Linked DNA regions of Homo sapiens: regions 1 and 2 are each linked to region 3. The links come from fine-mapping of genetic effects on gene expression. A gene starts in region 3. Each other region holds a variant in brackets. All regions are shown on one strand. Distances are between the middles of the regions. Region 1 overlaps ATP5MF-PTCD1 (ATP5MF-PTCD1 readthrough). Region 2 has its middle 29 kb from the start of MYH16. Region 3 holds the start of ZNF655 (zinc finger protein 655).

Region 1 (9,388 bases), 100 kb before region 3:
TTTCTGCTCATCTCTTTTTTTTTTTTTTTTTTTTTAAAGACATAGGGTCTCGCTATGTTTCACATACTGGTCTTGAACTCCTGGGCTCGAGTGATCTGCCTGCCTCAGCCTCCCAAAGTGCTGGGATTACAGGCGTGAGCCACCACGCCTGGCCCCGCGCATCACTTTGGAGTGCTTCAGTGTTTGGAGCTCTTTCAATCACTCGGATTTGAGGCTAACGAGGGTGACCCGGAAGCAGCGAGTTGTGCAGCTGGCTGCATTATGTCCGTGGTTGGTTTCTGTCCACGTCCACCTTCTCCCTGAAACCCACTTCTCCCTCCAGCGTGGGCATTGCCTCTCAGGCCCGAGCTGGTTCCTTCTCTCCAGGAGCCATGATCCTGGTGACATCTCAGCCATCCTAAATAGCCCTTCAAAATAACAGCCTCAGATGTGTCTTCTGGTAGCAACAAACTTGCCTTGAGCCCTGCTTAGAGAATGCGTGGCCTCAGCTGTCCTGAGTGGCCTGCGTGGAGAAGCGGGAGCCCGGGTGGAGTCAGTGGGGCTGGCACGGAGTCTGGCAGAGATGTGCTCCCTGCTGGAAGGAGTCCCCAGGGTCCCCGCTCAGGTCTGCACTTCCAGGTTTCCCGGGAAGCAGCTCTGTGGGTCAGCGTGAGGCTGGCTCTGGTCCTGTGCAGGGAGCCCGGCAGGAGGCTGGAATCCTGCAGGGAGCCAGGGAGTGCAGGGTATGCTTCATGCTTTCAAAGCACTGCTGTTGGAGGAGACATTAATTATTTCAGCATCCCATCAGGCGTGGCCTGCTGGCTTATCAATGAGAGCTGTGGCTTGTTTTGTGGAGGTGGCATAAGCTGAGAAGAAATAGGACCCAAGCTTCCCAGCTCCCCAAGTGCTGTCCCTGTCATTGTGCAATGTAGCATGTTCCCCCCGATGCCTTGCCCATAGCAGCACTGGGGCAGCACTGGGATGGGGCAGTGGCCTCCCATCTGTCCCCAGAGGCAGCAGCTGGCTCTCCTGGGCAGGCTCTTAAGGCACCGCTATACAAGTGGCCTGAGGGTCGCTCCTTCCTTGCTGACAGCCCTGGTGCAGGACGCACTGTCTGCAGCTTCTGTCACCTGCACCACAGACATTGGGTTGAGGGCCCCCTTTCCAGGCACTGGAGGGACAATGGTGAAGAGGTCCTTGCCCTGTGAAGCCTTCACTCTTGTGGTCCAGGGAAAGAGGTAGCTGATAGGCCATGAGACGAACAGAGAAGAAATTGCTTGTGACAAGTGCTTTGAAGGAAGGAAACCGTGACCAGAACCTTCTCTAGGCTGAGTGGTCAAGGATGAGGGGATTCCTGAGCTGGAAGCGGAAGACTAAGAAGGGGCTGGTCCTGGTACAGGGGGACCCATGTGGCTGGGGGGTGGCAGAGGCTGAGCCTGCGGAGGGGCCTGGGGAAGGAGTTTGCATTTCCTCTGGATTTTGAGCACAGTTGTAAACATGGATTGGAGAAGGTGAGCCTGGAAGCGGGCAACTACTCAGGAAGGCGGTTCTTGGTGCTGGTGGTCCCTGGGGTCCGCTGCTTTGGAGAGGGCCAGGTCCACAAGTGCTTCCCCTACCCTTGTCCCAGCTCTTAGATGTGAAGAGCCAATCAGAATGGAACTTCCTGGTCTCAATGGGTGCATTTCCATCACAGCTCCGCTGCACAGGAAGCTGGGGCTCAGAAACACTCTTCCCTGGCTCTCAGGGCTCGTCAGGCCAAAACTGGACACCAGAACCTCTTTTCCTTGGATGAAGCCAAGGTGGGCCTGGCCCCGGCCTTCCCAGTGGTCTCACGTCTGAGTTTCCCTGCAGGGGAGTGCAGCAACAAGGAATGTCCCTTCCTGCACATCGACCCCGAGTCCAAGATCAAGGACTGTCCTTGGTATGACCGTGGCTTCTGCAAGCACGGTAGGTGCCAGGGTGGGCTGGGCCCCGGGCAAGAAGCCAGTCCTCCCTTCTCTGCCCACGACCCTGGAGGCTGCCAGCTGGTCTACCTGTCCCAGCAAAACCTGACATTCTGCAGCTAGCGGCTTTCTCACACTCCTCATCTCCCTTGCCTCTCCCAAGAATGCTGGGTGGGTGGTGGTCCACCCGCTTTTTTGATAAGGAGGCCAGTGTTGGGAGGTGAGGTCCCTGCCCCGTCTCCCATGAATGGGGGACAGCCAGCATTTGAAACCATGCTCCAGCTCTCTAACTGGTAGAGGGGACATCTAAGTGACCGGACACTTGGCTCTGCAGGTCCCCTCTGCAGGCACCGGCACACACGGAGAGTCATCTGTGTGAATTACCTCGTGGGATTCTGCCCGGAGGGGCCCTCGTGTAAATTCATGCAGTGAGTAGCCAGCTGCTCCGCCCTCTACCCCAGCTCCCGGCCCAGGCCCTGCTGCCCTCCGTATCTTCCCTGGGCCAACTGGGCCTTGGTCACTGGGTGATGTCAGTACCAGGGCCAAGGGTGGGGGCAGGAGATGGGGAAGTAATCCCTGCTTATGGCCACCAATGCTTCCTGAGCCCGCAGGTGGCTCTGCCTAGACCAGGAGCTGATCTTTCTTGGGTCATGGGCCATCTGGTAATGTAATGGAAGCTGTGGGATACAGACAAACATGTAGCCTTGCATATCATTTAGGGAATTTGGGGACTTCCAGTTAAGAACCTGTGCCCTAAAGGAAAGAATTTCAGAGCCTCCCATGTGGAGGCTCAGGAAACCCTGAGCTTGGGGTTTCACATAGAATAAGTAGTCGTCTAACAGTGAGGGTAGGAGAGAACGCACCCATTTCACACAGCAGCACACTGAGGCACAGGGCTCAGTCCCTGGCCAAGGGCACATGGTAGCAGGTGGTGGCACCTGGTCAAAGGCAAGTCTGGGCTGGGTGTGGTGGCTCACGCCTGTAATCCCATAACTTTGGGAGGCAGAGGAAGGCGGATCACGAGGTCAGGAGTTCGAGACTAGCCTGGCCAATATGGTGAAACCCCGTCTCTACTAAAAATACAAAAATTAGCCAGGTGTAGCGGCGCGTGCCTGTAGTCCCAGCTACTTGGGAGGCTGAGGCAAAAGAATCACTTGAACCCAGGAGGTGGAAGTTGCAGTGAGCCAACATCGTGCCACTGCACTCCAGCCTGGGTGACAGAGCAAGACTCCATCTCTAAATAAATAAAATAAATAAATAGCAAGTCTGTGAGCCTCCGAAGACGGGTTTTAATTCTTGCTCTGTGGGGTTAGCACCCCTCTTGTGGCTCCATTTTCTTGTCCTTGGAGCCCAGTGCCCATCTGTCACTTTGGTTGTGGACCTGGGCTTCTGCCTGGGGTGGCACTGGGGCCACAGACAAGCCTCCCTTCCTCCCGGCTGCCTCGCCCACACTGCTGAACCTACAGCAGGATAACAGTCTCCAGGTCTGTGGGAACCCTGGTCCCTGCTTCTCACTGCAGGGAAGTGGCCGGTGCTGTCACTGGGTCTCACTCCCTGAATGAGAGTGCAGGCACCTGCAGGTGGCTCAGGGGCAGACCGTCACCAAGTGATGGGAGGAGGGGCTGACGCCAGAGTAAGACCCTGCGGGGAGGGGGGCTTCCCTGTGTACAGCTCCTGTGGCGCAGCAGGCACGCACCAGCACAGCCTTTGTCATTTCCGAGAAGCACTGGCCATGAGTCTCCCAGCTCGGTGTAGGCAGGGTTGGGTCTGAGCCCAGGCAAGTCAGTTCTGTTCTCCCC[G/A]CCACTCCTGTGGCCTCCCAGGAGCAGAGCTGAGTGCCAGCCACCACCCCATCCATGCAGCTTGTGTCAGTCACTTTGTGCTGGGGCAGCTGAGTGTGATTTTCCTAGGGCTGGAATTTAAGAGCATGGCCTGGCTTCTCTTCTCATCCCCTGACCCCACTCCTTCTCTTGTTCTCATCCCCTCTGGCTGCTGGTGACCAGCCCTCGATTTGAACTGCCCATGGGAACCACCGAGCAGCCCCCACTGCCGCAGCAGACACAGCCTCCAGCAAAGGTACCGTGCCTGGCCTTCCTCGGTAGGAAGGAAGTGCCTTTTCTACAGCGAGAACCTCAGTGTCCCCCAGGGGTGTGGTCTGCCTTAGACCCCGCTGGACAACTTGGGAGAGGAGGGGAGTCTCCCAAGTTCCCGAAGAAAAGTCAGGAGCAAAGCCGTGTATATCTCCCTCGAGAGACGGAGGGCCTCTTGCCCTAGAACCTCAGCAAGGCCAAGCGCAGCAGCAGACACAGTCCAGGCGCCGTGCAACTGGCCACCCGTTGTGAGATGGGGCTAACCTGGTTCAGCAGCGTCTGCCCCTGGGGCTGGCATGGAGGGCGGCCTGGGCACCGTGTCTGCTGCTCTTGCTCCTGGGTCAGACCCTTTATTTTGCAAATAGGGAAACCGAGACTACCAGAGGGAGGGACCTGCCTGAGGTGACACCACTGGGCAGGAGCAGGTGTGGCAGCAGAACTGACCACTCTGGCCAGCACCGCCCCTGCTCCTGTGGAGTGGAGGTTGGGAGGAGGCGCGAGAACAGGCCCGGCTGGCTCCAGTTTTCTAGATGAGGGGCCCCACAGCCAAGCAGCTGGTCCGTCCCCTCAAGCACAAGGAGAGGGGGAAATGCTGTAGACACATGGGGATCTGCAGCAGCCTCTCAATGCCAAGGGCACCCTGAGTTTGGTTATGGGAGTCGGGAGTTGAGCCAAGAGGAAGGGCTGGCGTCAAGGCAGGGCGGGCATCAGGCAGGGTTCCCAACAGGCCCATCAAGCCCAACCACCTCCTGAGCCCAATGCCTCACCTCCTACCCTGCTGGGCTCTGGACTGGCTGCCAAAGCCCCACCAGCCCCGCTCAGTGCTAGAGGCTGAACAGCCAGGAGAGGATGCGGAGGATGTAGCTGCGTGGAGGCGCCAATCACATTGAACTCTTGATGGGGAAAGCCGGGAATTCCAGGTGTAGGTGCAGCCGTGCCAACCTGGGGGTTTTCTAGCTCGGGTTCTGCACTTACGGGCCAGAGCCAGGAGCCCACCTGGTGGGGAGGAGGCCCTGCTGTGGAATCCCTACCCCAGGAGCCCTGGCCCTCCTCCTGGTGGGGCTCCCTAGAGGAGGGTCCTCTCAGCCCGAGAACGCAGCTCAGTGTGTCAGGCTCCAACTGTTTTTCTGTGACTTGCTCGCCGTGTAGGCTGCTAAACATCTGGCTGAACCAAGCGTTCATCCTGACCTGAAGCCAGAACCTCAGAAACCAAAGTAAGGCCTGATCATGCCCTCGCCCCACTGCCCCAGAGACCTCCTCTTGTCTCTTTGATGTTTTGTTTTCTATTTTATTTTTCGTTTTTGTGTGTCTGCATGGTGTTTTTCGGGCAGTGGCTTCTGCCATCATCACCACATGTTTCTCTGCTGCCCACTGTCCTGAGGTGGGCCGTCGTGGAAGCCCTGCTTCCTGCCGTTTGCGGGACGAGTCCCGCCCTCTTTTTTCCTGTCCCCATCGGTAGTCTGCGTGCACGTGTTTTCCACAGTAAAACCGTGTTGTGTAACTCTTTCCAGCAAAGTAACAATCCGCCATTACAAAGGTCGTCCTCCTTGATCCAGTTAACGAGTCAGAACTCTTCTCCCAATCAGCAGAGAACCCCGCAGGTCATCGGGGTCATGCAGAGTCAAAACAGCAGCGCGGGCAACCGGGGACCCCGGCCACTGGAGCAGGTCACCTGTTACAAGGTGAGTCCCTGGGCTGGGGGACAGGGTGGGGTCTTCCCTTACCGTCAGTGGCCATTCCCTCATGCCCCATGTGTTTGGTGAAATGAGAAAAATGAAAACATTCATTTTTGCTGATTGTAAGCATAAAGTTACAGTCTAGTTACCATCCACTGTGGTGGGCTAGAGACTGTCCTATTTCCTACCACACTGCACTGAGGCACGGTAAAGGATGGTGAGAACGCCTGCCTAGTGAATGGACGGGGCCTGCAGGCAGGTGAGGGAAGCCCCCAAGAGGCCGGGAACAAAATAGAAACACTGATCCAGGGAAGGGTGAGCCCTTGGAGCCGCTGGCTGTCCTGGGGGCATCCTTGGATCCTGCAGGGCACACCCGAGAAAACAGGACACTGGGTTACAGCACCCCTGTCCCCATCCCCTCCCCCAGTACATAAAATGGGACTCAGGAAGGGTGAGCTTCAAGAAACCTCCTCGAAAACTGTCCTGTTCACTCCTGGCTCTGTGGGAAGCGGGGAAAGGGGAGGAAAATCTCTTGATAGTTTGACGTTATTAATGGGCCCTTATGTGAGTCTAGGCCTGTATTCATGTCCTTGGTTAAGGCTGGAAAGTTACAAACTAAGTTTTCTAATCTAAAATCGCCCCAGGATTGGTGTGTCCCTGGCACGTGGCAGGAGTAACCCCCAGTACTCTTTGAAGAGTATGTTCTCAACCCAAGGCGCACACAATTCCTACAGCTGGAGTTCTGAAGAATGAGTCCAGATTAAAAATCACAAAACAGGCTGGGTGTGGTGGTGCACGCCTGTAGTCCCAGCTACTGGGGAGGCTTAGATGGGAGGATTGCTTGGGCCCAGGAGGTCAAGCCTGCAGTGAGCTATGACTGCACCACTGCACTCCAGCCTGGGCAACAGACTGAGACTCTTTGTCTCCAAAAAAATAAAAGAGCATGGAAGTGGGGCACTGTGTAGAGCAGACTTAGCTGTTATCTTGCCACCCTCCAGGCCTGTTAAGCGGGGCCACTTCTGTGCAGCAAGCGCCCTTAAGTCCTGGAGCCTTAGAAAGGTAGGGCTGACCGCCCCTGTCCACAGCCTGTCACCCCATTAATGTCAGAGACACTTCATGTAAGTCCTGGATTCCCCAGAGTCAGCTGTGGGGTCCGACAGACATGCCAGATGCCGTGAGCAGGGTGTGTGGTCCCTCCCCCAGCCATCATGTTAGCCCTACAGCCCATCGGCAGCCTCTCCATACAGAGTCACACCTGCAGATCAGACAAAGTTGAAAACACAGGGACAGCTGGGTGCGGTGGCTCACGCCTGTAATCCCAGCACTTTGGGAGGCCGAGGGGAGCAGGTCACAAGGTCAGGAGTTCGAGACCATCCTGGCCAACATAGAAGAAAGAAAACAGGAATTGCAGAGCCAGGGAATAGAGCTGGCAAGAGTGTTGGGTGCCAACTGGGCAGAGCCCCTCAGGGCAGCAGGGACTCAGGGGTGGGTGTCAGTACAGAGTCAGTGCCCCCAGCTGCCTCCTGACCCTTTTGTTCAGTGCTTGAGGCTGCCGTTTTAGGAGTCATAGAGTAAAGAGAAGCTATGGAAGGGCCTGGATAATCAGGACTGGGATGAGGCAGGGTCAGGGCTGGATTTGTCATGTGGCTCTGCAGGCTCCCCTTACCCAAGTCTAAGCATCGTCCCATCTCTCTGATCCTGTAATCAAAACCTGTCCCCAAGGTAGCTTAGGTGTGTCACAGCCACGAGGGAAAACGTTGGGTACAGCCCACCCTCTGTCCCCAGCAGTGGCTCCCCAAGGGAGGGGAGGCTGGGACACTTCTGATGCTGTTCCCTCCCATCTCCTGCCAGGGAACCCCAGACCTTGGCTCAGAGGTAAGTGACTGGCCTGTGGTGCAGAAGGGCTTGGTCCCCAGACGGGGTGGCGGAGCTCAGGTGCCACGGGCTTCTCTTTGTCCTGCTACCCACTTGGGAGTCCCTCCCTGGGCAGGCCATGTGTCCAGGTGGGAGAGTTGTGGGCCTGAAAGAGCAGGTCGCTAGCAGGTCGCCTTCTGGCGGCCTTGTTCTCCCTTGCATCTGCGGAGTTGCTGGCTAGTTTCTGCACCACTGCACTTTCCATCCTGAGCTCCCTCACCCTCTAATTTGAAAGAAACTCTGTACCACTGAGAATTTCAGAGTCATGTCCCGACTGGGGACTTGGTGGATGATTTGGGATTTGGTGGGCACTCCCTTAGTTGAAAACTGCATTTGAACAGTGTTGTTGTCTGTCTCTCCTCTTCCCCCACTTCCTGCTGTTCCCAGTGTGGCGAGAAAGGACACTACGCCAACAGATGCACCAAAGGGCACTTGGCCTTTCTCAGTGGACAGTGACAGCAGCTGGAGCCAGCTCCGAGCAGCCCGGGGGCCCCGCTGTTGGGAGTGTGCATTTAACTGTTTCATGCGCTTGTTGGCGCGACTGTGGCTCGAGCTGGCCCGCAGACACGTGGGTTTCATCACTCTGAGGGGCCACGTCTGTTAGTTTCCTATCATTTTGCCTTAGTATTTTTTGAAAAAGGGACATGTGTCCTGTGGGTCCCTGCAGTCGACATCATGTTTGGCTGGGCATCGATGCCTCCTTTCTGGGACTCCCGGCACAACTCCCCTCATCCAGGGAGGGAGGCAGCTGCTGGGGAGGGGCTTGGCTAGGTAGTTCTGTGTGGCGGTGGTCATTCCCCTCATTAAACACCAGTTCTTGGTGACGCCAGGGGCTGGTAGGTCATTCAAAGCTGTGGCCAGCTCACGCCTGCTTCCTCCCTCCCTGCCCTGCTGAATCCTAAAGCTGTGCCTATATCTGTGATTTGAATGAGGGAGCCCTTTGGGGCAAATTCAGGTGCCCCCATTGCCTCAGGCTGGCCCTGGTCCCAGGTGGCAGCGGTTGAGGAGGGGTACAGGGCTCTCAAGCCTGAGGTTTTCTTCTCTGGGCTTAATTTTCTCTTGGGGTACGTGCCTGACAGTGTTTAAGGTGTCCGTTGAACTGGAGTTGCAGACTTTTAAATAGATGACCCCTTCAGATCATCTGTGCCTACCTCCTGCCCATCAGGCGTCTACACTGTCACTCAGACACCTGTGGCATGTGGAGGAGACTGCCCTGTCCTGAGCCTGGAAAATGTGAAACTGTCTCCTGCAACCTGCTGGGCATGTGGGCCTGGCTGTGTTCAATTGCAAGAACAATTTTTATGAAATGGATTAAAGCTTGTTTTTTAAGCCATGTCTCATTAATTAAGGGTCTCATGCCAACCCTTTTACACTGGCTGCAATCACGGCGTAGCTTTCTTGTCCCTTTCAACAAATGTCAGCCTCACAAAGGGAAGTGCAGCTGCCCAGAAGGCCTGCAAGCAGCTGGTCAAGTCTGGGAGTCTGATCTGTGGAGCCAGCAGGCAGGTCCTCCACCTCAGCTCAGATGTCTGGTGGCACCTATTTCTGGGGCACAGTATCCCACCCCCAATGAGGCTCTGATGAAGAGGAAGCAGGGAGGGGCCGCCATAGCCCCTCACTTTTCCCCATCACCCCCAACCCACTAAGCCTCCTGTTAGAGAAGCCGCCTCAGCCGGAGGGCCACAATCCCTGCAGCCTGGGCGTGAGTGCTGCCTGAGGTCTCTCCAGACAGTGCCGGGTCACCTCACCCTGTAGCCCTTGATGCCCCAGGGTGATGCAGAAACACAGG
Region 2 (10,755 bases), 310 kb before region 3:
TGGCTGGGTTGAATAACAGTTCTAAGTTCTTTGAGAAATCTCCAAATTGCTTTCTACAGTGGCTGAACAATTAGCTTCTTTCTTATTCTTGGTTATGAAAGCCTAATAGCACCAAGACAGACAAGGTGACATGAGAGAAGCAAGCCTCTGTCTTTCTCGGGACATTGACTTCAGCCTGTGAGCCTCAGCAGCTTGTCTCTGCTTCCCCCTACAGCACCCAGGGAAGTCCTGGTTCCTGCCCTCAGCTCCTTCCTGCTCCATCCTCAACCAAGCCACCATGCCTGGTGGGTACAAAGGGGAGTGTGGGGACGATGTGGACCCTATGCCTTTCCTGGCACCTCCTGAAAAGGAGAGGATTGAAGCCATGAACAAGCCCTATGACATTAAGAGGTCCTGCTGGGTCAAAGATGAGAAGGAAGGCTTCGTCGCTGGGGAGATCCAGTCTGAACAGGGTGACCAAGTCACCGTGAAGACGATCACCAACCAGGTGAGTGGGGCACGATCTCCAGGATGAAACCAAGTGGCAGGCACCCAGGCCTTTTCTAGGCATGCTCCCGCCCAGAAGGCAGGGTGGCAGAAAGAGCAGGTGCCTCCGAGTCCCATGTGCTGGGGTCAAATCCAGACTCGCCTACACTCAAGCTGTGTGGCCCTGGGCAAGACGCATTCCCTCTCTGAGCTATATCACAATAGAGATTCCGAGACAGATCACATGAAAGCACTTCATAGACTCTAAGACAGTACCGTGCGTAAGGGATGATCGTGAGAGTTACTTATCTTTGATGTCTCAAACAGCTCTCAAGTGGAAGCTATTTTCTAAGCATGAGAGTGAGCATGTCACTTATGAGCAGTGTCACTGTGTGCCATGGCCCCTGGTGGCATGAGGGCCATGAGAGAGGGCACAGAACACCCTGGCTCACTGGGTGAGCTCTTCAGCTGCATGAAGAACAGATGGTGGTTCCCAGGTCTCTTGGAGCATGGGGGTGGTGTGCTGGATGTGATGGCTTCCGATGGCTTTTAACGTGTTGCAAGGACCCAACCTGGCTAATGATGGCTTGCAGGGACTCAACCTGGCTTATCGTGGATTGCAGGGATCCAACCTGGCTTGTGATGGTTTGCAAAGACCCCAACACTAAACAATGAGGGATTTTACAGCCAGTTGTTAAACCTTGGGTAGCTTGCTATCAGCCGTGATGGAAGTATTTATACCATGGAAATGGGAATATGCTGTAAATCAGGGACACTTCCCCCCAGACAGCTGGTTTACCAACCCACCCTTCTCTCTGCTGGCCCACACTACGTCTGACTATGAGATATGACTTGAGAGAATGGATAGAAAATTTGGCTTATTAGGCTAGGCGTGGTGGCTCACACCTGTAATCCCAGCACTTTGGGAGACCAAGACAGGAGGATTACTTGGGCTCAGGAGTTTGAGACTGTCCTGGGCAACTTGGTGAGACCCTATCTTTATTTTTAGAAAATAATAACAATTTTTATTAGAATTTTTTTAATTTGGTTTATTTTAAATGGGTAAGGGCAGGGTCTCTTGTATTCTTGGCAGACCCCTGGTGAGGCACTTGACACTTTGTTTAATCCTTTTGGCAATCTTATGTGGTAGGATTTATTGACCCTATTTTGCAGAGAAGGAAAACTGAGGATCAAGGGCACTTTAGGTGACCTGTGTACGTTGCAAAAATAGCAAATGATGAATTTGGATTCAAACCCACTGTATCTGGCTCATATGCCCATGCCCCTTCTATGTCACCATTCCATCCCTTCATGGTGGGCTGCCAAGAGGGAGGCATGAGCCATTGCACCCGGCCACTTTTCCATTTAAGAAAAAAGACATTACTCTGCTCCCTCCAAACCGCCTTCAAGGATAAAATTGAGAGCAAGCAAGCAAAGAAAACAAAACAAAACAAAACAAAAACAAAAAACAGAGCAATGTGTGTTCAGCAATAAATATATTAGCACCTGCGAGGTCCATTCCTGGTTAATTTCTTGATTAAAAGAAGTCAGAGGCCAGACGCGGCAGCTCAAGCCTGTAATCCCAGCACTTTGGGAGGCCGATACAGGCAGATCGCTTGAGGCTAGGTGTTTGAGACCAGCCTGGGCAACATAACGAGGCCCCGTTTCTACAAAAAATTAGCCAGGTGTGGTGCATCCCTGTACTCCCAGTTACTTAGGAGGCTGAGCCAGGAGAATCGCTTGAGCCCAGGAAGCTGAGGCTGCAGTGAGCTAGGATTGCACTGCTGCACTCCAGCCTGGGTGACAGACAGAAACCTTGTCTCAAAAAAAAAAAAAGGAAGCCAGAGACCTCAGTGATCAGAACTGGCAACAGCTGTATTTTTCTCTGCGCCTGTCTTCGAGAGGAGCAGTGGTAAAAAGATATAGTTGGGTGGAAATGGATTTGAACGAAAGTCAAGCTTAATTCCCAGGAGAAACAGTTTTCAGAGAGGAGAGTGCTGCAGTGTCGTGAGAAGTGATGGGTGATGATAGTGGAGCCCCAGGGTGCATCTAAGTTTGGATCCACATTTAAGGACAACACAATTTCCTTGAGTATCTGCAGCAGACAGTGCCGGCCAGCCGGGTTTGGGACAGAAAAGATGGAGCCTGTGGCGCTGGCTTCCCTGGCTCCTAAAATAAAGGCCAAGTTCTCCATTCCTCTGCTGAAAGCGAAGTGTCTGCACGTGGACGAGGACCAGAGATCTGGAAACCCCTGGAAATGAATTCAGAATAAAACCCAGCTTGAGGCCAGGCATGGTGGGTCACGCCTGTAATCCCACCACTTTGGGAGGCCAAGGAGGGTGGATCACCTGAGGTCAGGAGTTTGAGACCAGCCTGGCCAACATGGTGAAACCCCATCTCTACCAAAAATATAAAACTTAGTCGGGCATGGTGGCCTGCGCCTGTAATCCCAGTTACTTGGGAGGCTGAGGCAGGAGAATTGCCTGAACCCAGGAGGCGGAGGTTGCAGTGAGTTGAGATCACGCCACTGCACTCCAGCATGAGTGACAGAGTGAGACTCTGTCTCAGAAAAAACAACAAAACAAAAACAAACAAACAAAAAACAGCTTGGTTTACTAAGGGCGTGGTAACCATTACGGGGAGTGGGGGTGGATTTTCCAGAACTGTCAAGATTTCAAATTATCTGCCTATTGTACTAATAAGTTATTAAAAGTCCCAGAAATCCCAGTATGGATTCAGGCCTCACATCTAAGGTTGCAGGCAGCCAAAAGGTATTTGTTTTCTAGATCGTATGTCTTCAGCTTTGATCCCAGATGCTGGAGCTTCTTAAGAGCTGGCACTAGTTTTTTTTTTTTGTTTAGTTTTGTTTTGTCTTGCACTATCACCCAGGCTGGAGTGCAGCGGCATGATCTCCGCTCACTGCAACCCCCGCCCCCTGGGTTCAAGTGATTCTCCTGCCTCAGCCTCCCAAGTAGCTGGGGTTACAAGTGTGCGCTACCACGCCCAGCTAATTTTTGTATTTTTAGTAGAGACAGGGTTTCGCCATTTTGGCCAGGCTGGTCTCGAACTCCTGACCTCAGGTGATCCACCCACCTCGGCCTCCCAAAGTTCTGGGATTACAGGCATGAGCCACTGCACCCGGCCTAGTTTTCATTTATAGATGAAGAAATTGGGGTGCAGCATGGGGAAGAGATCTGCCCACATGGCACGGGCGCGAACACACCTACTGATGAATGCTCATTGCTGGTTTCTTTTTTTTCTTCTTTTCTTGCTTGCTTTCAATTTTATCCTTGAAGGTGGCTTGGAGGGAGCAGGGGAATGTCTTTTTTTCAAGTGGAACAGTGGCTACATGTGGTGGCTCACACCTGTAACACTTTTGGGGGCCAAGATGGGAGGATCATTGAAGGCCAAGAGTTCAAGACCAGCATAGGCAACATAGCAAGACCTTGTCTCTAGAAAAAAAAATTAAAAATTAGCCAGGCATGGTGGTGTGCACCTGTAGTCCCAGCTACTCGGGAGGCTGAGGCAGGAGGATGGCTTGAGCCCAAGAGATTGAAGCTGCAGTGAGCTATGACTGTACCACTGAACTCCAGCCTGGGCAACAGAGCAAGATTATGTCTCAAAAAATAAAATTAAATTAAAAATTTAAAAAGGAAAAGTTTGGCTGGTCTGAAGGTAGTGAGTTATCTCAATTGATTGTGCATGGTCAGTTACAGATCAAAATCCTTGTTCCACTCTTCCCCCCACCCTTCTCATTACTGCACTTAGTCTTTAAAAAAGAGAGAGAGAAATGGAAAAGCTCATCGCTATTTCGAAATCACCGCTAACTCTCAAGGCAGAGAGCCAAGAGTCACATCTCTGCAAAGTGTCCATGGGATCAAAGAATAAGCTCTGATCATCTATCAGGATGGATTTGGCTGGAAGAGAAGCAGAGCCCAGAGGTCTCTGTAACATAGGGAGGGAACGTCATAGTTTTTAAGGTATTTTTACATGATTCCACTTAAGTTCATATAATTCTCCCAGCAACCTGCCAAGGAGGCTACTGTCATCTCAACTTCAGAGAGGAGGCAGTTGAAGCTGCATTGGCCTCAGAAGTGCCTCCCCATCCCAGGACACACAGGGGGATGTGGCTGGACCAGGACTTGGGTCCACTGGATGCTCCACTCCATCTCCTGGGACTCCAGAGGGTATGTGGTGACCTGGGCCAGATGCCCCATGCCCCATGCCTGATGCCTGTGCTGCTGTGTCTTGACCCCCCCAGACACTCACTGTGAAGAAGGATG[A/C]TATCCAGCAGATGAACCCACCCAAATTCTACCAGGCCAGTGACATGGCAGACATGACCTTCCTGAATGAGGCCAGTGTCCTAGACAATCTGCGCCAACGCTACACCAACATGAGGATCTATGTGAGTGCCAGGGATGGGGTGAGTGGGGGGAGGAAGGAGTGGCTGTAGATCTTCTGCTTTTCTTTTGTTGAGGAGGGGGTTGGCTACTCCACCCTCCCCAGCTCCCAGTACACATTATGACTTAGACAAAGGCACAGGGACCACGTTTCTGACATGTTAGAATTTCCACCCAAAGCCTTCGGCATCTCAGTAATGGCACCATCTCCGTGAGCAGCTTTTGCTGAGGCTGTCACCCGAAAATCTTCCTCCTCATGTTCCTCCCCTCTTCCTCAAACTCTCAAATCAAAACATCATTTTTCCCCTAGTGACTTCATGTGCCATTATTAGAAGTCCATCCATCCATCTATCCATTCATCCATCTATCCATTCATTCATCCATCCATCCATCCATCCATTCATCCATCTATCCATTCGTTCATCCATCCATCCATCCAAACATCCATCCATCCAAACATTCATCCATCCAAACATTTATCCATCCAAACATCCATCCATCCATCCAAGTATCTATCCATCCATCCAAACATCTATCCATCAACCCAAACATCCAAACATTCATCCATCCATCCATCCATCCATCCAAACATCTATCCGTCAATCTATTCATCCACCTATCCAAACATCGATCCATACATATATACGTCCAAACATCTATCCATCAGTCCAAACATCCAAACATTCGTCCACCTATCCAAACATCCATCCATCCATCAACCAAACATCCATCCATCCATCCACTCATCCACCCATCCAAACATCCAAATATCCATCCATTCATTCATTAATCAAAACACTCATCCACCCATCCATCCAACAAACATTGAGGAAATGTGACTTGTAGCCTGAGGCACTTAGGAAGGACAACCAACTGCATCCTTGAAGAAATTCAGTTTCACTTTGTCTGACATGATGACCAGAGTGAGTTACAATCAGTCCCCTGAGTGTCTTTGAAATCTTAAGACAGAAAGATGATTTCCTGAAGGTGTTGCAGCTTAACTCCCAAAATGGGTTGTCTAAGGACGTGTTGGTGTTTGCCTCTCTAGATGTCTTTATTTAAAAGGAAAGAGGCTTATCTGGTAGGAATAGGTGAGGTGCAGCCTGACTCCCAGGTCAGGAGCTGCTGGGGGTTCCCCTTCCCTGGGTCTATGGTTATAGTCAAGAGGGCTTCTGTGACCCCAGATTCATCCTCCTTTAATACTACTACTGTGGTTCTAGATTCAGGCCCCAGTAGTACCATAGCCCCAGGTGTTGCTGGAAGGTCTCTGAAATCTCTTGAAGATATTTGCTAGGTCTGGAAGTTAGCAGGGCATCCTTGAACCCCAGGTCTAGAAAGAGCCACACCCACCCCCGGCTGAACCTAGAGCCTGGGCTGAGAATGTCAAGGTACAGGCTCAAAGGTCAAGCTCAGGACCAGGGCTTACCTGGGGCTGCTCTGCCCGCAAGCCCTTGTTCCTCCTGGGTGACCACATCATGACTTTGGGCCAAGGGACTGCAGGCTTTGTGGAGTATAGCCTGAGAGACCAGGGCAGGGAGTCCCCTCCTACATTAAAGCGCCTCAATAGAGCCACTAATGCAACAACTCTAGCTGGCAAGGGCTGCTCCCATGATCCCAGCTGCTTCTCTCTCAATTCCTCCTGACCACAGCAGGGAGGTAACTGGCTTCCAGGATGCTGTCTGCCCCCACCCCACGGCTGAGACAGGCTGGAGGGGAAGAGTGACTCCATGGCTGGTGTCCCAGGATGAGACACTGTGTGTCATACTCTCAGCTGTTCCACTGGGTTTCCTTCATCGTCTCTTTGCCTTTTTTCCTGTGGATCAGTTTGTACTTAATAAGTTTCCTTTTGAAAATTCAACATATCCCAGTTATGCTAAGGAGGAGCTGGTGGCAGGGACAGGGGTGGATAGGGAGCAGTTATTCTTACTTGGTTCAAAATGGAAGGGTTTAAAGTTGAACTGAAACCAAGTACTTGGTGGATGCTTTAGAGGTCAATGTGACTGTCCAGCAAGGAGAAGAGAAATTTAAGATTCATAGATTTGGCCATTTCCTGTCTTCACTCATTCTTCCTGCTCTTAATTTATTTAATGATGTAATTGGTTTTTCTGGGGTTTTTTGTTTGTTTGTTTGAGATGGAGTCTCGCTCTGTTGCCCAGGCTGGAGTGCAGTGGCACAGTCTCACCTCATTGCAACCTCCGCTTCCCGGGTTCAAGGGATTCTCCTGCCTCAGCCTCCTCAGAAGCTGGGATTACAAACTTGCGCTACCACGCCCAGCTAATTTTTGTATTTTTAGTAGAGACAGGGTTTCACCATGTTGGTCACGCTGGTCTCGAACTCCTGACCCTGTGATCCGCCTGCCTCAGCCTCCCAAAGTGCTGGGATTACAGGTGTAAGCCACTGCGCCTGGCCTTTCTGTTCTTTTTTTTAAAACAGGGTGATTTCTTACAAAATTGCAATCTTGGAGTGAAAAGAAAGTTGGGGTCTCTTTTTAAGAGTAGGTCAAGGCTGGGCGCAGTGGCTCATGCCTGTAATTCCAGCACTTTGGGAGGCCAACGTGGGTGGATTGTTTGAGGACAGGAGTTCATGACAAGCCTGAGCAACACGGCAAGACTCCCGTCTCTACAAAAACAATTTTTTAATTATCCAGGCTTAGTGGGCACATGCCCGTAGTCCCAGCTACGTGGGATGTTGAGGTGGAAGAATCGCTTGAGCCCAGGAGTTCAAGGCTGCAGTGAGCTATGATGGCACCACTGCACTCCAGCCTGGGTGATAGAGCAAGGCTCTGTCTCTAAAAAAAAAAAAAGAAAGAAAAGAAAAAAAAAAGAGAAAGAAAGAAAAAAACAGGTAAAAAACAGGTGGTCAAACCCAGCTGCCACAAGCAGGGAACTGCATCCACACAGTGAAGATTCCACAGCTTTTGAATCACCCCAGAAATTCTCAATAGACTCTCAAGGAAAGCCAGATATATTAAGTGGCAAAAGCAAGATATAAAACAGTACTATAGGCTGGGCGCAGTGGCTCACACCTGTGATCCCAGCACTTTGGGAGGCTGAGGTGGGTGGATCCCTTGAGGTCAGGAGTTTGTGACCAGCCTGGCCAATATGGCGAAACCCCATCTCTACTAAAAATACAAAAATTAGCCGGGCGTGGTGGCGTGCACCTGTAGTCTCAGCTACTCAAGAGGCTGAGGCAGGAGAATTGCTTGAATCTGGGAGGCAGAGGTTGCAGTGAACCCAGATGGCACCATTGCACTCCAGCCTGAGTGACAGAGTGAGACTCCATCCACAAAATATATATAAATAAAAAAAACCATGGAAGGGAGTAAAAGAAACTAGCCCAGCATTTACCTGTGGTGAGGGTGGGGGTGGGCATGGAGCAAGTGGAGGGACCTTCTGCAGTATATATGTTACCACAGTGACAGTGTTACCTATTCAAATCCAGATGGACCCCAACTTACAATGGTTCAAGTTAATGATTTCCAACTTTACGATGGGGCAAAAGCAATACACATTCAATGCACTCCTCGATTTATGATCAAACCCATCGTATGTTGAAAATATCATAAATCGACTTTCAATACGATATTTTCAACATATGATGGGTTTATCTAGATGTGACCCCATCCTAAGTTGAGGAGTGTCTGTAATTAAACCAAAAGAAAACAAAAACAAATATATATTAAAGAGAAGCCTCATTTAGCTTAATGAACACAGACTCAGATAGTCATAAGATTTTGCCTCCAGAAGGCTGGGTTTCGTTGTTTTTGTTGTTTTTGAGACGGAGTCTCACTCTGTTGCCCAGGCTGGAGTACAGTGGCACGATCTTGGCTCACTGCAACCTCTGCCTTCCAGGTTCAAGCGATTCTCCTGCCTCAGCCTTCCAAGTAGCTAGGATTATAGGCGTGCACCACCACGCCCAGCTAATTGTTTCGTCCTTTTGGTAGAGACAGGGTTTCACCATGTTGGTCAGGCTGGTCTCCAACTCCTGACATCAGGTGATCCACCTGCCTCGGTCTCCCAAAATGTTGGGATTACAGGCATAAACCACCACACCTGGCAGAAAGCTTGCCTTCTTCACAGCTTGCTCTATGATAAGCTGGGGCCTGAAGGGAACTCCGCTGGGGGAAGAGGGTACCAGGAGGAAAAATCAGCTGACCATCTTCCCTCCCTCCCACCAGACCTACTCGGGCTTGTTCTGCGTGACGGTCAACCCCTACAAGTGGCTGCCCATCTACGGGGCCCGTGTGGCTAACATGTACAAGGGCAAGAAGCGCACAGAGATGCCGCCTCACCTCTTCTCCATCTCTGACAACGCCTACCACGACATGCTTATGGGTGCGTCGGGGTGGGCTCTGCTGGGGCAGGGGTGGCGGGAGACAAGCCTTCCTTTGCCATTGCGGCTCCAGACGCATTAAGACCTTGTGATACCCGATCCTAACCCTGACCCTGCACTACCAGTTGAAGTTCTTTGCTAAATTTTGAGCAGCAGCTGCTGCTACCAGGTGCCAGGGCTCAGTGAGTGTGCTGGGCACTTGCTAGGCACCAGCCCTACCTCACACCCTATCTCATTTAAGTTTCACAAACCCGTGGGATGCCAAGGTAAGTAGGTAAGTAACTTGCTCAGAGCTCAGTACTCTTAACCATTACCTCTATGATCTTTGCTGCATGTTATAGTGATTCCTCTATGTGATTTTTTTCTTTATTTTGAGATAGAGTTTCGCTCTTGTCATCCAAGCTGGAGTGCAATGGTGCAATAGCTCACTGCAACCTCCACCTCCCAGGTTCAGGCAATTCTCCTGCCTCAGCCTCCCAAGTAGCTGGGATTACAGGCATGTGCCACCACACCCAGCTAATTTTTGTATTATTAGTAGAGATGGGGTTTCATCATGTTGGCCAGGCTGGTCCTGAACTCCTGACATCAGGTGATCCACCCATCTCGGCCTCCCAAAGTGCTGGCTTTACAGGCGTGAGCCACTGCGCCCAGTCATGATTTTTTTTTTAAGAGATGGGTTCTTTGTTGCCCAGGCTGGAGTGCAGTGGTGCAATCTTAGCTCACCGCAGTCTAGAACTTCTAGGCCCAAGCAATCCTCCTGCTTCAGCTTCCTGAGTAGCTGAGACTATAGCAATGCGTCACTATGCCCAGCTAATTTCTTAATGTTTTGTGGAGACAGGGTTTCACCATCTTGCCTAGGCAGGTCTTAAACTCCTGGGCTCCAGCCTCAGCTTCCCCAAATGCTGGGATTACAGGCATGAGTCATGCTGTCCAGCCCTCTGTGATTTTTGTCCTCATTTCTCTTTATGTTGCTTAGGACTGGGTAGCTTTATGGCCACTCTGGGCTGGTAGAAAGAGTGGCTGATAAATTCCTGATCCTTTCTGCAAGGGTGTACACTGCAGGGATGGGCACGTGGCCACAGATCCCACAGGATCCTGAATTTTGGCCTCCAAGTGTAGCCAAGGCCACGATCTAAGCCGGGTGGAATTTGGGGAAGCGCTGACTGGCTGGGGCATTGTCGAATGCCTAGTTTCTAAATGTTCCTAATTACACCTTCCTGTTTCTTGTTTTCTTCCCTACAGATCGTGAGAATCAGTCTATGCTAATCACGTAAGTGTCTCTTCCATCTCTGTCTATACACATATAATTAGACCTGTGTCTTACACATACAATTAAGCCTTCTTAGAATTAATTGCGGGACTTTGTTTGGAACTCTGCAGGCAGTGAGTGGGCTTTGGGGCGGGTGAGGCTACACCTGTTAAACTGACAGGGTGGCCTCCCTGTCCCCAGGACCTCCCCACCTGCCTGTCTGTCCTAGCTAGGGGGCAAAATGCGAACAGAAGTGTGTACCTTTGAGGCCAGGTGTGGTGGCTCACACCTGTAATCCCAGGGCTTTGG
Region 3 (10,755 bases):
GGCACAAATGGAAATGAATGTGGGGCCATAGGTTTTGCTTAGCTGAATGTTAAATTCAGTCTATCGGCAGATTCCAAAATTGGAAGAGACCTTGAGATAATCTATTTTACTTTACTTAGGACACATTTGAGACTTGGTGGGTCTATGTGTTTCATCCAAGAACATCAATGGCAGAACTGGTACCAGTCCCCAATGGTCCGCTGCACCGTCCACAAATTCCCTTCTCTCCTTTATCCCTCGATGTCAAGCATAGATACCTCCCACAACTGAAAACCCCCCATGTCCGAAATTGCTCATTTAAAACCCTTCCTGGCAGGGCGTGGTGGCTGACCCCTGTAATTGCAGCACTTTGGGAGGCCGAGGCGGGCGGATCACCTGAGGTCAGGAGTTCATTTTCCCAGCCTGGCCAACATGGCGAAACCCCGTCTCTACTAAAAGTACAAAAATTAGCCGGGCATGGTGGCAGGCGCCTGTAATTCCAGCTACTCAGGAAGCTGAGGCAGGAGAAGCTTGAACTCGGGCGCTGGAGGTTGCAGTGAGCCGAGATCGCACCACTGCACTCCAGCCTGGGCGACTCTGTCTCAAAAACAAAAAAACCAACCAAAGAAACAAAAAGACCCCTTCCTAAAGTCTTGAAAGGAAAGGGTGAAGTGTAAATGAGCTTTTCCTATTATATCCAAATCACTTCTTTATTCAGTAGGCTTCAAACATTCTCTTTTTTTGTTTTTGAGACAGAGTCTCACTCTCTCTCTCTGTCTCCCAGGCTGGAGTGCAGTGACGCGATCCTGGCTCACTGCAACCTCCGCCTCCCGGGTTCAAGCGATTCCCCTGCCTCAGCCTCCCAAGCAGCTGGGATTACAGGCGTGTGCCGCCACGTCTAATTTTCTGTATTTCTAGTAGAGACAGGGTTTCTCTAGGTTGGCAAGGCTGATCTCAGAACTCCTGGCCTCAAACGATTCGCCTGCCTAGGCTTCCCAAAGTGCTGGGATTATGGGCGTGAGCCACTGCGCCCGGCCTTCACTCTAATCACCACCATAATGGTACTGGGTTTGAGGGTGAACATATCATCCGCGGACACTGGCTTAACGAGCCCATCCGAATAAAACAAATTATAAGGCCAATGGCACTTGGTATCGTGTAAGATCGCCAGAATTTTACAACTCGGGGTACCCAGGAAACCAGAAAAGCCCCCACCACAAGAAAAACCAGTGGGCACAACTGGGGAGCACAGATATCTGACTGGGGTCATTTTGTCCGCGCGTCTTTGGGGTAAAACACCAGGACTGGGGGTCCAGAAGGGACACGCAGACCGCCTCTCTCCAGTCCCAGGGGTGTCTCCAATCCGGAAACCAAAACTTCGTTCCCTTCCCACCTGTATCCAGGGACACCTCTGCTGGGGGACAGCGCTTGCCACCGCCGAGGCTGGCGCGAGGAACGGGGGCACGGACCCGCTTCCACTCCGTCCCGGGCGGTCGTGGCGAGGGGATTGCAGGACACAGCCATGCACGTCCAACTCTGTCCCCGCCCGGAGAAGTCTGGGATGCTGGGATAGAAGGGGTTGTGACTTTGGGGACCAGGAGCACTAGACTCACATCCAAGCCCCCTGGCCTTCAGAGCCCAGGGAAAGCGTCACAAAAGCCGGAAGTGCGTCACACCCGCCTTCCGGAGCTGCGCTCCGCTTCGGGGTCCTCTCTAGGATCGCGGGAGGACTTTGCATCCCTGTGTAGGGCTCTAATCTCGGGTTTGGGGATCTTGCTCCTCAGCTTGTCCGCTCCGAGGAGGTGCACAGGGCGGGGAAAAAGGGATGAATTTCCCTTTATACCGCCCTGCTCAGATATTTATATGTTCCTTCTATTTTTCTTGATGACAATAATTGTAATAGTTACAATAAAAATAGTGATTGTCTGTGGCAGAGGAGCTGAATGAAACGAGGGTGGAGACAGGAAGATCAAGAATAAATGGTTTCACAAATCGAAGGGATTGTCTCTTGAGACGCTGATTATGTACGTATTGCCAGTTGAATGGGCAGTATTTTCAAATACTTGATCTATAGGCAACAGACGTTCTTTCCAACACTAGATAGTTATAAAATTCTGAGTTTGCCTTATGTTTCCAGGGAGTTTTCAGATTAGCAACGGTGAAATAAGTTGAATTTGAGGCGTTTTTGCTGTCCAAGTGTTATTGTAATAATTAGGGCTTCTATGATTAGATCAAGAATAACTTCACCTTTTATAAAACAGTAACTGAGACCTTGAATGGCTGGGGCATGACTCTAAAAGTTCTGGGCAAGTCTGTGGTACAGCCCAATAAGATAAAAGCCTACAAAAGGAACGGCTACCTGATACAGAGCCTATGATTACGTGGTATCCCGAATTACCTTCTAGACCCTCACTAATGCTCCATTCCTTAGGGGGTTTGATCTTGCTATGGTTGCCATTTTCTACCTACCCACGAGTCTTCTCAATAATCCACTTAAGTGCATCTTTGCTCCATATATATATATACACACATATATATACACACACATATATATACACATATATATACATGTATATATATATACACACACATATATATATATACACACACATATATATATATATATATATATATATATATTTTTTTTTTTTTTTTTTTCCTCCTAGGGCACCGTCAAATCCAATCTTTGCTCCTTTATCACTGGCTGGCTTTCTAACCTACAGTCCTCCGTGATGACATCATAGTCTCAACTTATTCCTCCAGATACATCCTCATATTTCCTTCCAGGGTTCCAAGTCATCGCTAAGAGTCATTACATTGCTACACACTGTATTTTTCTTCTTTGTCTAAAGTCTCTCCTCCCCACCCGTCCCCATTCCTACACTGAAGTGCCTAAAGGGTCCAGGAAGGCAGATTACTGAATGCAGTTGACTGGGTATATGATTTTGTATTTATGTTGTGTGTGTGGCAGGAATTGTAGGCATCTCTATAACGACTCCTTTCTTTGCCTACGGACCTACTGGCACAAGAAACTCAAAGTGGCCTGGTGGTATTCTGTTTTCAGTTCAGTGGCACGATTTAATGTTTCCTAGAGGAAATGTTCTTCCTGGAAATGAGGATCATAACCCAGCTGGCTCCAGATTTCGGAGCGAGGAGGCACAAATTCTACAGGTGAGTGGCTGGGTGTGATAGTAATAGAGGCTACTCCTGTATGCACATAGTCCTACTGGAGACACAATACTATATATCCATTTTGGCCCAATGCATTTCAGCGCATATACCATATTCTGAAGAACTGCTCCCAACTTTGCAAGGCATTACATCTTAATCGCAATTTAGCCCAGTCTTCAACAGGCCATTCCAAAACCCTATCTGGCTAGCTGCTTCTGGATGATGAGTATGCACCATGAATTTTGTAGCTTCGAGTTCACTGTCACACCTCCTTGGCTATCGGTGGGTTCCTTAGTTTCAGGTATGTCAATGGATAAGGCACCCTGTAAGCTCTCAGATGGTGGTGCTGCTGGAGGCAAAGTAGTTGGGGAAGACAAGCTCATTTAGAGCATATATCAATTCTGGTAAGAACAAATTGATGCCCATTCCAAGGTAAAAGGGATCTGATGCACTCAACCTGGTGGTAGCTGGTATCTCTAAGACTCAGTGTTGGTCTCTAATGCTGGCAGGCTGGACACTCCACCATGGTGAGAGTTACATCAGCCTTGGTAAGAGGTAGACCATATTGGCCGGGCACGGTGGCTCACACCTGTAATGTCAGCACTTTGGGAGGCTGAGGTGGGTGGATCACAAGTTCAGGAGTTCGAGACCAGCCTGAGCAACATGGTGAAACACCGTCTCAACTAAAAATACAGAAATTACCTGGGTACGGTGGTGTGTGCCTGTAGTCCCAGCTACTCGGGAGGCTGAGGCAGGAGAATTGCTTGAACCTGGGAGGTGGAGGCTGCAGTGAGCTGAGATCACACCACTGCACTCCAGCCTGGGCAACAGGGCGAGACTCCGTCTCAAAAAAAAAAAAAAAAAAAAAAGAAAAATAAGAGGTAGCCCATATTGTTGGGACCACGCACAGCCTCTATCCCTGCTACCATGGTCTCTGTTCATAAGCCTATTGCATAAACAATAAGATGGTCCCTAACCAACAAGCCAAGCCATTCATCACTGCCTAGGAGTCAATGCATATCCCTACCTTAGGCTACCTCCTCCAAAATATGGCATGGGTGACCAAATGTACCATTGCTCACTGAGATAATTTTTCTTCACCAGTATGCTTCAGGGCAACGCGAGTGGGGCTGTAATGAAGAACAGTCTGTTTCTGGAAGATGCCAACATGCTGAACTGACCCAATCCCCAATCTGTGCAGAGGCCAAGGCTCTTCTGTCTCCATCAGTTAGTTGTAGGGAACTTTTATAAGGCCATAGGAGTAAGTTTATGGGAGAGGTGGCAGTAGAGCAGAGGTAACTGACCTGGGAGTTTGGAAACGTGGGTTTTGTTTTTTTGCCTTAGAAGGCATGACCTTGCTCCAGAATCTTAGGTATTTGTGCTGTGACTCTTTATGATGGGTTGAATTGTACCTCCACCTCATCCCCAATTAACAGGTTGAAGTTCTAGCCCCTAATACCTCAGAATGTGAAATTATTTGGCAATAGAGGCATTGCAGATGTAATTACTTCAAGATGAGGTCATAGTGGATTAGGGTGGGTCCCTCATCTAATGACTGGTATCCTTATAAAAAAGGGAAGTTTAGAGATAGTACACAGGGAGAATGCCAAATGAAGATGAGGGTAAAGACTGGGAAAATGCTTCTTACGATGCCAAGGAATGCAAAATATATCCAGCAAATCCCCAGAAACTAGGAGAGAGGCATGGACAGATTCCTTCTCACAGCCTCAATAGGAACCACACCTTAATTTCTGACTTCTAGCCTCCAGACTGTGAACCAACAGATTTCTGTTGTTTAAGCCACCCAGTTTGTGGTACTTTGTTATAGGAGCCCTAGCACACGAATGCACACTCTTATTGGGGTTTGCCAGCAACTCCATACAGCACCTGTATCCATCAAGGATATTTCTGGAACCACTGAATTTGCAAGTAAGCTTGCACTGTTGCTTGGATTTACTATAGAGTGCTCTCTTGCCCCAATAAAAAGTGGAAGCTGGCCAGGCATGGTGGCTCACGTCTGTAATCCCAGCACTTTGGGAGGCGGAGGTGGGTGGATTGCTTGAGGTCAGGAGTTCAAGATCAGCCTGGCTAACATGGTGAAACCCCTCCACTACTAAAATACAAAAATGCTGGGCATGGTGGCGGGCGCCTGTAATCCCAGCTACTAGGGAGGCTGAGGCAGGAGAATTGCTTGAATCCAGAAAGCAGAGGTTGCAGTGAGCCGAGATCACGGCACTGTACTCCAGCCTGGGCTACAGAGCAAGACTCCGTGTCAAGAAAAAAAAATAGTAATAAATAAAAAGTGGAAGCTTTTTAGGTCACCTAATACATGTGTTGGAACAGTTTTCTCAGGTGCAGAATATGCTACCTCCCAAATCCAAAGGGGCCCACCAGGACCTGTACCAATTTTTTTGGGATTAGAGGGTGCAAGGTGGAACAACTTTCTTTTACCTTTGGGTGATGTCCCCAAACCACTGGGCCCCACCAAAACTTCATCCATTTGATAAGTGCCCATATCTTCAGGTTTCTGTACTGCCTTAGTAAGAAGTCTTACTAGGATATTTATGACCCTTGTCACTTGCTGCTCACTGGGTACTACTAGCATTTGTCATCAATATATGGACCATCATGATGGTTGGGTAAAGTTCCTGCGGACTACACTGTGACAGAGAACAGGTCTCAGGATCCCACCCTCTCCCTGTATGAGCCACGACTTTGACTCAGGGGACCTGCCGAGTCTGCACAATTGGTCTCCTTTACATTACTGTCACTGTTACAAACAGATCCTCGGCCTAATTTTCAGCTTAGCTAGATGCAGAATTACCTTAGTAATTTATAAAAAATCAGCTATTGTATGTATCTAGATCTATTTCTGGACTTTTTTTTCTTTAAGAAATTCAACCTCATATTTCTGGACTTTCTGTTCTGCTCTGTTGATCTATTTGTCTCTATGCTGATACCATACCATCCTGATTACTGTACCTTTAGGAAAAAAATCTTAAAAAAATACAAGTATTCCAATTTTATTCTTTTTCAAAATTGTTTTGGCAATCCTAAATCCTTAGCATTTCTATATAAACTTTAGAATCAGTTTGTTAATTTGCACTAAAAAAAACAAAACAGGCTCGGTGCAGTGGCTCACGCCTGTAATCCCAGCACTTTGGGAGGCCAAGACGGGCGGATCACCCGAGGTCAGGAGTTTGAGACCAGCCTGGCCAACATGGTGAAACCCCATCTCTACTAAAAATACAAAAATTAGCTAGGTGTGGTGGTGCCCACCTGTAATCCCATCTACTCTGGAGGCTGAGGCAGGGAAAATGCTTGAACCTGGGAGCTGGAGGTTGCAGTGAGCTGAGATCGCGCCACTGCACTCCAGCCTGGGCGACAGAGCAAGACTCTGTCTCAACAACAACAAAAAGACAAAAACGAAAAAAGGTAACAATTTTTTGAGTTGTTTCCACCTCTGTCATCTGGCAAACTGTTAAAAGAAAATTTTGCTCAAAAGCAAAATAGCAGCTGCTGTTTCTTAACACTTTGTTATGTTTTGATGAGTACTGGTGGGAAGTGGCCTCTTTAAGTGGGTACCTTTTGTGGTCCTCTCACTGGAGCCAATTGCCTGAGTCAGCTAAAACTTGGACGCGATGTGCCTCACTGCCATAGCTCACTCACCTTTGCTGCTGAAATGGTTTCCCATCACATTGCTAATAGGTACAACCTGTGAAGGGTTCTAGGTGGGGAAATGGCAACTCAGGAAGAACTCCAAACCTTTAGCTCTCCTAGGATATTAAAATGGCCGTTATGAAGAGGAAGAAGTACTGTGTCATCTATTGTCCTGGGGACCTGTCAACAGGAACAATAGATAGACATCACCAGGGGTGTATTTCTGTTCAACACAAGGAAAAGTTTCTAATTGGAGCTGTCCAGCATGAAATGGACTAAGCAGTGCATTTTCTTTCTCCGATCCTGACTCCACTGTGACGGGCACTGCAGACTAGAGAGATTGTGTCCTAGTATGAATTTAGGTTGGATAAATGATACTTAGGGATAAAGAGAGGAAAGGAATATCAGAATCTCCAAGAAGCTGATACATTTTGAAAAAATATATAAAATGCCACACTTCAGGTTTTCTTGTGTTTAATTTGAAACGTCCAGTAACATTAAAGAACAGCATTTGATTTGCTTAAACAAAGTAGTAACAGCTGAAGTTCCTTCCAAATCACTTTTCTGATTCTCTAAGAGGCTTGCCTATGCCTTGCAGATCTAGCTTCACCTACAAGACATATTCTGTAAGGATCCAGGTTCAGCAAGGTGTCAGAATGTCCTAAGGGTTTCTGTCCCGGCGCTCTGCCTGTCCCGCTTGTGCACAATGCTTTTGCCTATCCCTGTTTCTGCATAGATTTTAGTCTTCCCACCAGGGACGCAACTGTCAGTTTCCTCCGTCTCTCTCGGTTCTATTCCAATCTGCTCATCTCCCCTCCCGTCCCCGCTTTCCCCAAGGACCTACTGAGATTTCGATCCCACAACTTAGTGGGTCCCATCTCACCCAGGCCCCGCAATCCTCGCCTTCTACTTGTCAGCGTTGTACTACACTCTGAGCAGGCACCCCTGTGCTACTCACGGAAGCGGGACCATTAGGTCGGCCATTCCTCCTCACCCCACGACACGCACCCACTGGGTCGGGCCGCCTCCTTGCAGGGAGTCTCAAGGATGGGCTGGCGTCAGGGAGGGGCCCAGGGGGCGCTTTCCCAACACTGGTCGCAGTCATTGTTGGTATAACGGCTAGAGACGCCCAGTGAGTTAGCATGGAGGGCAGTGGGACCGGAAAAAGACGTGGAAAAGCTGCGAAAACGAGCCTTCGAATCATGGACGCGCGGGCCCAGCTCCTCCTCCGAGTTCCTCATCCGGGGCCGTCACTCACATCCGGGGCCCTCACTCACATCCGGGACCCTCATCCGGGGCTCTCACCCACATCCGGGACCCTCATGCCTGGGCGGAGGAGGGGGGGCCCTCATTCGGGACCCTGCACTCCGTCGCCGGAAGTGCCACCGAGAAGCGCCGGCCTCGGGGCTGTCTACAGCGGCCCGGGAGAGGCTGTGGTGGCCCCGAGCGCGAGTGTGTAGGTGACAGGACAGCGGCCAGGCCCGCCCCTCCCCTCGGTGAGTACCCGGAAGCCGTTTTGGGGTCGCAGCGGGGTGGCAGCTTGTTTTGCCTTCACGGGAGTAGAAGGAGGCGGCGTCCGGCCGCGGCCGACGGTAGTTCGCTTCCCCGAGAGTGCGCGGAGGCCCGGGTGCGAGGAGGGCCTGTTTCTCTTCAGCCCTGGTTCATTCACCTCGCGGACCGAGGGCCCCGCCGTCAGGAGCCGGCGACCGTGCCCTGGTGCGAGCTGGTCTGTATGTCCTCACTGGTCCTTTTGGGACTTTGCCTTGGCCTAAAAGGGAAGTGGGAGGAGGGCAGCGCCGGGCAAGGCCTTCTGAGGACCGAGCTGGGAGCCGGGCAGGGGCCCAGGGCGAGGGTGGTGGGAGGGGGACGGCACCCTCATGCGTCCTTGGGCCTGAAGGACGCCGCTCAAACCTGTTCGAACCGCAGCTCTTACCTGCGTTGCTCTCAGGATTCCGGGAAAAGGCCGGTCTAGCTGGTCTGAGTTAGCGAAGGGCCTGACCCCAAAAGTGGAGTTTTATTCGCCAAGCCCGTGTAGTAAATCGGAGTGGGCTGACGGTGTTACCAAGACATTTCCTAGGGGGCCTGCTGTTTTATTTATTTAAATGAGTTTATTTACGTAAACGCGGGCCTGTCACGGTGGTTCACGCCGTAATCCCCGCACTTTGGGAGGCCGAAGTGGGAGGATCGCTTGAGGCCAGGCGTTCGAGTCCAGCCTGGGCAACATAGCGAGACTCCCATCTCTGCTAAAACAAAATTAAAATAAAATGAGCAATCATAACTAGCATTTTTCTCTGGGCACCAACTTGAGCCTCCAAAGACGATTGTAAATTTTAAATATTTTGTTTTGTTTATTTGAGGTGGGCTGTCACGCTGTCATACAGGCTGGAATGCAGTGGCGCAGTCATAGCTCACTGCAGCCTCTACCTCCCAAGCTCAAGCGATTCTCCTGCCTTGGCCTTTGGAGTAGCTGGAACTACAGGCCTGGGCCACCTAATTTTTTTTTTTTTTTTTTTTTTTGTAGGGACGGGGTTTCACCATGTTGTCCAGGACGGTCTGGAACTCCTGAGCTTAAGGGATCCACCCGTCTGTGCCTCCCAAACTGTTGGGATTACAGGCTTGAGCCACCGCACGTGGCCAATTTTAAATATTTTAAAGTTTCCACAGAAAGCTTTACACTATTAAATTGTACCGTGTTAATTTTTTTAATGCCACAAATTCCAAATTAGAGACTCTTCTATGATTTGGTTCTTAAGTATTTAAAGCTGAAGCATATCCATATTTCTTTTTCTTTTTTTTCTTTTTTTTTTTTTTGGGACGGAGTCTCACTGTGTTGCCCAGGTTGGAGTGCAGTGGTGCAATCTTGGCTCACTGCCACGTATGCCTTCTGTATTCAAGCAATTCTCCTGCCTCAGCCTCCCGAATAGCTGGGATTACAGACCCGCACCACCACGCTGGCTAATTTTTGTATTTTTAGTAGAGAAGAAGTTGCACCATGTTGATCAGGCTGGTCTTGAACTCCTGACCTCAAGTGATCTTCCCGCCTCAGCCTCCCAAAGTGCTGGGATTACAGGCCACTGCGCCTGGCCCCATTTTTCTGTTACTTATTTAGGGTGGTTAATCATTATCAACTAATTTTTATTGAATATCCATAGTGTGTAAGATCCTTTGCAAAGTCCTGACGATATAAAATGATGAAATGCTTTAACTTATTACAGTAATTTCTCTTAATCTTACCTTGCAGTGATGGTCATTGTCCTCCAGAGCAGTGATGGAGGAAATACCAGCCCAGGAAGCAGCAGGGTCACCAAGGGTCCAGTTTCAGTCTTTGGAGACCCAGTCTGAGTGTCTGTCCCCAGAGCCTCAGTTTGTGCAGGACACCGACATGGAACAGGGACTCACTGGGGGTAAGGCAGAGAAAGCACTTCCGTCTGGGAGAGTGGGAGTGCGGAGGGGCTCCCGAGGGGGCTCCTGGGCCTGGTTTGAGAGAGGCCAAGAACTGGAATAAGAACATGGTCCCTAGAGGGAGGAATGAAAGAGGGGGCAGATGTGACTCAGTTCAGTCCTAGTCTGAGCCCCTTTATTAAGGATAGCTCATCTTTCTCAAATAAGCAGAGTGATGGCTGCTTACTCGCTGTGGTGGTTTTTCCTTCAGGCAACCTTCACTTCATCCCAGTTCTCACATCCAGAATAATTTCTAAGATATGCTGCTTTTGCCACATCTCACAGTCCTTTCCTGGCTCTCACTTCCTCTTAGGTTCAGGACCTTTCTTTCCCCTGTTCCCTTCACTTAGTTTTTCTTTGCTTTGTCACCTGCCATCCATTCTGTTGTAACTGCAGTGTTTTGTGACTAGACTAAATTTGGTCAAGGAAGCAACCATTTAATTCCTTGGTTGAACACAATGCCTGTATGAATGTATATATACTGTATTTTGACTACGCAGTCAC

The links. PIP is the estimated chance that this variant, and not a neighbour inherited with it, causes the effect. A credible set is the group of variants that fine-mapping cannot tell apart.
Region 1: its variant is the best candidate, but not a certain one, in a credible set for the expression of ZNF655 in whole blood (INTERVAL, PIP 0.50).
Region 2: its variant is the best candidate, but not a certain one, in a credible set for the expression of ZNF655 in blood mononuclear cells (TOPMed, PIP 0.55).

The regions. Positions count from the first base shown.
Region 1 is chr7:99,448,446-99,457,833 of GRCh38, forward strand. All of the region lies in intron 2 of ATP5MF-PTCD1 (ATP5MF-PTCD1 readthrough), which reads right to left. It overlaps CPSF4 (cleavage and polyadenylation specific factor 4), which reads left to right. Exons shown (of 8, transcript NM_006693.4): 4 at 1,831-1,926; 5 at 2,257-2,350; 6 at 3,923-3,995; 7 at 5,521-5,691; 8 at 7,987-8,928. The coding sequence ends at 8,055. Among named protein-coding and RNA genes, the nearest start is that of ATP5MF, 13 kb to the right of the region's middle. RefSeq lists enhancers at 3,602-4,162, 7,277-8,079. The variant G/A (reference allele first, on the strand shown) is at 3,722.
Region 2 is chr7:99,238,552-99,249,306 of GRCh38, forward strand. It overlaps a transcript of MYH16 not described here. Among named protein-coding and RNA genes, the nearest start is that of MYH16, 29 kb to the right of the region's middle. The variant A/C (reference allele first, on the strand shown) is at 4,749.
Region 3 is chr7:99,550,482-99,561,236 of GRCh38, forward strand. It overlaps ZNF655 (zinc finger protein 655), which reads left to right and starts at 8,161. Exons shown (of 3, transcript NM_138494.3): 1 at 8,161-8,306; 2 at 10,052-10,214. The coding sequence starts at 10,079. LOC105375422 (a long non-coding RNA gene) reads left to right here and starts at 1,684. Exons shown (of 3, transcript XR_927801.4): 1 at 1,684-2,003; 2 at 3,044-3,150; 3 at 4,255-5,476. FAM200A (family with sequence similarity 200 member A) reads right to left here and starts at 1,633. Exons shown (of 2, transcript NM_145111.4): 1 at 1,373-1,633. RefSeq lists enhancers at 1,190-1,379, 7,806-7,935, 7,966-8,235.